Homo sapiens: one gene and its partner. The protein of the gene in region 1 interacts with the protein of each later gene in a pairwise test. Each region holds a gene or a part of one and is shown on either strand. Other genes may lie near its edges.

The links. Proteins that work in one complex are often made in the same cells at the same time.
Region 2: the proteins of PSAT1 (region 1) and CDH1 interact in binary tests that used the Homo sapiens proteins (3 or more experiments, as listed by UniProt).

What each region holds. Positions count from the first base shown.
Region 1 is NC_000009.12:78,300,123-78,303,877, reverse strand, and holds part of PSAT1 (phosphoserine aminotransferase), read right to left. Parts: intron 3,277-3,755; coding exon 3,216-3,276; intron 1,925-3,215; coding exon 1,855-1,924; intron 1-1,854. UniProt on the Homo sapiens protein: Involved in L-serine biosynthesis via the phosphorylated pathway, a three-step pathway converting the glycolytic intermediate 3-phospho-D-glycerate into L-serine.
Region 2 is NC_000016.10:68,831,246-68,835,000, reverse strand, and holds part of CDH1 (cadherin-1 isoform 1 preproprotein), read right to left. Parts: intron 1,712-3,755; coding exon 1,502-1,711; 3' UTR 1-1,501.

The sequences.
Region 1 (3,755 bases):
CCAAGCCACTGAGTAAGGTCAGAGCCTGGGAATAGGTGTACGGAAGCCAGATGGCCAGGGAACAGAGCTCCAGCAAAGATACAGAGGTAAATTAATAAAGGGCAGGGCAATGTGGCAGGGTCTTGGGGAATGGGGTGGTAGGAGTGTAAATATCTTGTCCTGAAAGATGTATGGCCTATATTCAGTGCTTAGTAGGATAGCAAGCAACCAGCAGGTCTTAGGAGACTCTGGCCATGAGGTTCTTAGCAGCTGGGAAGACTGATAACCCAAGACAGAGTTCCAGGTTCACATTATTCAGATGCAGGGCAGTTAACAAGGCCAAGAATTAGATGGAAAGAAACCAGGCCGAGGTCTAGGTACAGGTATACAAGGTGGGAACCAGGTTAGGAGAAGAAAAGATAGGCCCTTAAATTGAACTGGGACCCCAGTCAGAGGAAGTTCATAGCCATGTGGTCAAATGTCATCTCTCCCAGGCTGATGTTCCAAATACCCACTCCATGAAGGACAGGATTGTCCTATGAATGTGACATGATACTCAGCAGGCCAATGGACGAGAGAAGCCAAGCAGATGGCTACCAGCTCTGAACATTCACATTGCAATTAGCGTCTACAGCTCCTCACAGAAATATCACCAAGCCTGCCCCATCTGAATCATTTTATCAAGCAATTTGAAAAAGAAAACTTGAAATAATCAGTATAATTCCAATTTTGTTAATGTAATAATGCAAGAATGGGTCCTAACATATTAGTGATTATCCCTGATTAGTGGGGTTAAAGTTAATTTCAGTTTAGTTGTGAGCTACAGTGTTTTTCCTACCATAAATGTGCATTATTTCTGTGAGCAGGAAAAAAAATGGTATGCTTTCAAACTTGCTATATTCGTAGGTTTATGTGAACATGTTTATATAATATATAAAAATCTCTCCTTTAAATAGCAATCTATTTAAGAATAAGGGATTCTCTGGATAGGAAAGGCAGTACAGATAACCCAGGAGATTTCGTCTAAGCAGTAGTTCCTACAGTTCAGAACTCTTACAATTACCCAAAGAGCCTGTTAAAAATAAAGTCTCTCCAGAGATTCTGATTCAGCAGGACTAAGTGGTGCCCACCACTTGATTTTTTTTTTTTTTTTTTTTTTTTTTTTGAGACGGAGTCTCGCTTTGTCACCTAAGCTGGAATGCAGTGGCACGGTCTCGGCTCACTGCAAACTCCGCCTCCCTGGTTCAAGCGATTCTCCTGCCTCAGCCTCCCGAATAGCTGGGAATACAGGTATGCGCCACCATGCCCAGCTAATTTTTTCTTTTTTTGTATTTTTAGTAGATGGGGTTTCACCGTGGTAGCCAGCATGGTCTTGATCTCCTGATCTCACGATCCACCCGCCTCGGCCTCCCAAAGTGCTGGGATTACAGGCATGAGCCACCTTGCCCGGCCCCACTTGAATTTTTTAATATTCCCCCTAACCAGGTGACTCTGACAGATCGTATGAGACTCAAACTTCGAGAACACCTGAACTAGTTTATAGTCAATTATGCTGACAAAGATGACCATTTCTGTGTCATTTACATCTCTTTCACACCAGTTTAACTGCCACAGTGCTGAAAAATCATTCCTAGATACAATGATTTCAAATCTTTGGAAATATCACATAAAATAAAAACAAAAACATATAAACACGGGATGGGGAACAAATAAAAAGCGTTAGGTACTAATAGTGAATTGGAGAGAATCTTACAAGGATTATTTTAAATTATGAAATATTCTGAACAAACAATAGAGTGTAGAAAATACTGGAAGACATCCAGATTTAGGAAGTATCTAACAAAAGTAACATGATTTGGTCTTTTTAAAACTTACAGCAATTCCCGCACAAGATTCTCTGTATTGTTAATAATCTTGGCAAAATCTGATGACCTGTGACTCATTTCTGTGAAAGGAAAGATAAACAACAATAACAAATATTCCAGCTCAAAACCAAATGAACAGAAATACCTACGAAATTTGCAAGTAAACAACAATACAGGGAAATTTCAGTTATTCTGCATTCAAATTGTGGGCCAAGGCTCACTTAGTTTAGGGGACCATACAAACTGATTTTCAAATTGCAAACATTTTAGCTTTATAGTCATGGCAGAAGGATTTTTCAAGTGGTACATTCACTGAGCAAGTTATTTATTAATTCATCACTCCGTGATGCTCTCTGTGATTCTTCTTACCATCTCTTTCTCACAAACAGGAATCCATGTGCAACAGTTGCCCTTTAGGTCTGGAGCACAAAATTCCATGCTGTGATCTCACTTCACAGAAATCTAAGTATATGTCCCAAACCAACAGGAGCAAAATTTAACAGAAATAAGCAATATAGTTAACCCTATGGTCTCTTAATACCATGCAGTCTTCAGAACCGCCAAAAATAAAAGAAAATAAGTTTTAGAATGCAGAGGTCCTCTTCCCAAAAAATATAGGGGAAACTTAATAAGATTATCAATGTGCGAGGTCTTCATAAAAGGCTTATGTACTTTTAAACTTTAATGAGGTTGTATTTAAGTATAATAAAAACTGTAAATTGAATGTAAAGCAATATTATAAATGTTTGGAGGCACTGTTATGCAAATATACAGTATCTTCTGATCCTAAATCCTATGATTAGCAAAAACCAATTATGACAGGGTAAGCTGAGATGTCAGAACCTCTCACCAGCATTTATGCTATTTTCAAAATGGTTTCTATCAGACATGCAACCCAAGCTATTAAAGTTTAAAAATGTATCTATAAAGGCCTATAGGAAGACCCTATAGGCCCTGTAATTCTATATTTGATGCATTTAAATTAGTTCCCTTTGGGCCAGGGCTCAGTGGCTCAAGCCTGTAATCCCAAAACTTTGGGAGGCCAATGTGGGAGGATGGCTTCAGGCCACGAGTTTCAGATCAGCCTGGGCAACAAAGTGAGATCCCATCTCATGGGATCTTTAAAAAATGTTTTAAACATTTAAAAAAAATTAGCCAGGTGTGGTGATGTGTACCTATAGTCCTAGCTACTCAGGATGCTGAGGCAGGAGGGTCACTTGAGCCCAGGAGTTGGAGGCTGCAGTGAACTATGATCACGCCACTGTACTCCAGCCTGGGTGACAGAGCAGGACCCTGCCTCTAAAAAAAAAAAAAAAAAAAAAAGCTTCCTTTGAAACATGGACATTCACAGAATTCAAAAGTAAATCTTACCAAGAACACTAATGCCAACTCCTTTGTAGTCTAATAATTCCTTTTGTATCTCTAACAACACCTAGAAAAAAATAAAGGAAAATAGGGTTATTTAAATATGTTCTGCACTGCTTTCCCTCTGAACATACAAACCTGACGAGGGGACAAGGAAGGGTCTACAGTGAGGTCCCCAGGCTTCCATCCCCACCCACAGCCAGTCTCCTTCCTTCCCATGTCCACAAAGCCAGCGATTATGCAACTTACACACAAGGTAAGCATGAAATTAGGCAATGTGACTGATGTTGATACACTTTTTCCAAAGGCCCGAATTTACCGATTCCCTAGAAAATGTCCCCTTCACAAATCTCATTCACCACTCTCCTAAAGCTAAAGTAAAGAATGCATAAAGTTCTGGGTTAAAGGGACAACGATAAAAAAATTATGCCCAGATTATACAGGTAACTCAATTTTCCGATCTCTTTTGGTCTAAGGTGCTAGACTGGGAAGCGTGGGGTGGGCAGGAAGAAGGAAGAGCCTGCTGTGAATAAGATTCGTCCCAGG
Region 2 (3,755 bases), on another chromosome or scaffold:
ACGGATCTTGTGTCAGAAACACATGTTGAGACTCCTCCATTCCTTCCAGAATTTTCAGAGATGAGGTAGACCCACCTCAATCATCCTCAGCATCAGTTTGCTAAATTGCCAGGCTCAATGACAAGCTCTCCTGCCATCTCCAAGCCCACTTTTCATAGTTCCGCTCTGTCTTTGGCTGCAGCACTTTAGGCACTATTCTAAGTCCTGGAGTATATCACTCTTGCTTCAGAGCTAAATAAACATTAATGAACACACTTACTCAGAACAAGTCACTGGATAGCTGCCCATTGCAAGTTACATACTCAGGAGATGAAAGAGGGAAGCCATTAAAGGTCTTCAGAGTAGACAATACCTAGTCAAGATGTGGCCAGACAAAGACACAAACTTCTTACCCTAAAAGAGCCCAATAATTTCTGCATCAGAGAACTCCTATCTTGGGCAAAGCAACTGAATTCAGGAGTGAGAGTTGATATTAAAACATGGAGGCTGGGCACAGCAGCTCATGCCCACAATCCCAGCACTTTGGGGGGCCAAGGCAGAAGGATTGCTTGAGGCCAGGAGTTTAAGACCAGCTTGGGCAACATAGCAAGACCCCATCTGTACAAAAAAATAAAAAGGAGGCTGGTGGGAGAACTGCTTGAGCCCCAGAGTTTGAGGTTACAGTGAGCTATGATCACATCACTGCATCCCAGGCCTGGGCGATGGAGCGAAACTGTCTCTTAAAAAATGGCAGGGAGTTGGGGAGCTGGGCAGGTGCAGTGGCTCATGTCTGTAATCCCAATACTCTGGGAGGCCAAGATGGGAGGATCACTTGAGCCCAGGAGTTTGAGACCAGCCTGGGTAACACAGGGAGACCCCGTCTCAAATATTTAAAAAATTAGTCATGCGTAGTGGTGCATGCCTGTGGTCCCAGCTACTTGGGAGGCTGAGGTGCAAGGATAGCTTGAGCCTGGGAGGACAAGGCTGCAGTGAGCTGTGATTGCACCACTGCACTCCAGCCTGGCCGATAGAATGAGACCCTGTCTTAAAAAAAAAAAAAAGGCAGAGGGACACACCAGTGTAGTAATGAGCAGAAGCACACAAATTTTTTTTAAAAAATTATATACACAAAACAACAGAACTAGAGTAGCTGACTTCTCCCCTTCTTTTTAAAAGTGAGACAAAATTCCTTAAGAAAATCTGCAAGGTGCTGGGTGAACCTTCTGATGCTAAAGTTGTTCTTCTGGAATATTAAAATTTGGGTATCTTTTGGACATCACCACCATGTAAAGAGTGATGGGAAAAAAAAAAAAGCTTTAAGAAATAAGTCGAAACTTTTCTAACACAAACTTATTAGAGCTATAAAGTGGAGAGAGTATAAAGCTATACTAACTGCATCACTAACCAGTCTCTTTTTTTTCCCCAGAAACTCATCTCAAGGGAAGGGAGCTGAAAAACCACCAGCAACGTGATTTCTGCATTTCCCAGCACATGGGTCTGGGGCCCGCCTCTCTCGAGTCCCCTAGTCGTCCTCGCCGCCTCCGTACATGTCAGCCAGCTTCTTGAAGCGATTGCCCCATTCGTTCAAGTAGTCATAGTCCTGGTCTTTGTCTGACTCTGAGGAGTTCAGGGAGCTCAGACTAGCAGCTTCGGAACCGCTTCCTTCATAGTCAAACACGAGCAGAGAATCATAAGGCGGGGCTGTGGGGTCAGTATCAGCCGCTTTCAGATTCTAAAGAAGAAGGGACAAAAGCATCTTTTAGTGAAAGGAAGGGCACACCTGTCATCTGGGGCAAGAAGTCTAGCAATATGTAAGGTACGACAATGCACCCAGACTTGTGGCACACCACGGAGCAGTGAACACCAACAACGTACATTTATACACACTGTCATGGAAGGATGCAGAAGCACAGGATATGTTGTTGATGGAAAGAGAAAGTGAAATGGTGAGTTATATGTAGGCAGGAGAGATGCAAGCACCAACCAGTCAGGATGGAGTCCCCATAGATCAGAGTGGGGCTGCCACACCACCAGCTGGGATGGGCAGAGCTGGAAGCTTTGCATACTGGTGCATGCAGGCTGCATTTCCACCCAGAAAGGCCTGGAAGGATAAATGCCAAATGCTTAACAGTTAAATCTGGGGAGTGGGGGTGTGGGAACTAAGGAAGGACTTGTATTTTTTTTCTTTTTCTTTTTTTTTAGAGACAGGGTTTCACTCTTGTCACACAGGCTGGAGTGCAATGGTGTGATTTTGGCTCACTGCAACATCTGCCTCCCAGGTTCAAGCGATTCTCCTGCCTCAGCCTCCCAAGTAGCTGGGTCTACAGGCATGCGCCACCATGCCCGGCTAATTTTTGTATTTTTAGTAAAAACGGGGTTTCACCATGTTGGCCAGGCTGGTCTCTAACTCCTGATCTCAGGTGATCCACCTGCCTCGGCCTCCCAAAGTGCTGGGATTACAGGCGTGAGCCACTGCACCCGGCCTTTTCTTTATATATTTTCATTTTATGAAATAAATAAAGTATATTTATTTATTTTGAGATGGAGTCTCAGAGTCTTGCTCTGTCACCAAGGCTAGAGTGCAATGGCATGATCTCGGCTCACTGCATCCTCCACCTCCTGGGTTCAAGCGATTCTCTGGCCTCAGCCTCCTGAGTAGCTGGGATTACAGGTGTGTACCCCCACACCATAATTTATATTTTTAAAATAGCAAGCATACTTAAAAAAAAAAAAACTTTTAGGTTTGGGAGTACATGTGAAGGTTTGTTATATAGGTAACAAATCGTAAACTCATGTCATGGGGATTTGTTGTACAGATTATTTCATCACCCAGGTATTTAGCCCAGTACCCAGTAGTTATCTTTTCTGCTCCTCTCTCTCTCCTCCCTTAAGCGAACCCCAGTGTCTGTTGTTCTCTTCTTTGTGTCCATGAGTTCTCATCATTCAGCTCCCACATATGAGTGAGAACACGTGGTATTTGGTTTTCTGTTCCTGCATTAGTTTGCTAAGGATAATGGCCTCCAGCTCCACCCATGATCTTGCTTCCTCAAAAGACATGATCTTGTTCTTTTTTAGCATACTATTTTTATAGTTTAAATAAAAACTGCAAATACAAGTGATGACTTGCAAATGAGTATGAATGGAGGAAAGGCCTGAATCCAGATGTATCTAAAAGGGGTCTGTAGTCAGGAGCGGTGGCTCACACCCATAATCCCAGTACTTTGGGAGGCCGAGGCAGGGAGATCACCCGAGGTCAGGAGTTTGAGACCAGACTAGCCAATATGATGAAACCCCATCTGTACTAAAAATAGAAAAAGTAGCTGGGCGTGGTAGTGGTGCCTGTAATCCCAGCTACTTGGGAGGCTGAGGCAGGAGAATCGCTTGAATCTAGGAGGCAGAGGTTGCAGTGAGCCAAGATTACGCCACTGCACTCCAGCCTGGGCGACAAGAGTGAAACTGTCTCAAAAAATGAAAATAAAAATAAAAATAAATAAATAAATAAAAGGCATGGTTAAACTGGTTTCTTTCTGTTTCTTGTTTTTTCCAGTGGCTAAAATGAATGTGGCTTGATCACTTCTAACACTGCAGTGCCTCACAGTCCTCAGTGACAGCTCCCATAGAAAGCTAAAGCAGTCCGGGCGTGGTGGCTCACGCCTGTAATCCCAACACTTTGGGAGGCCAAGGCAGGCAGATCACCTGAGGTCAGGAGATCGAGACCATCTGGTTAACATGGTGAAACCCTGTCTCTACTAAAAATAAAATTAAAAAAAAAAAAA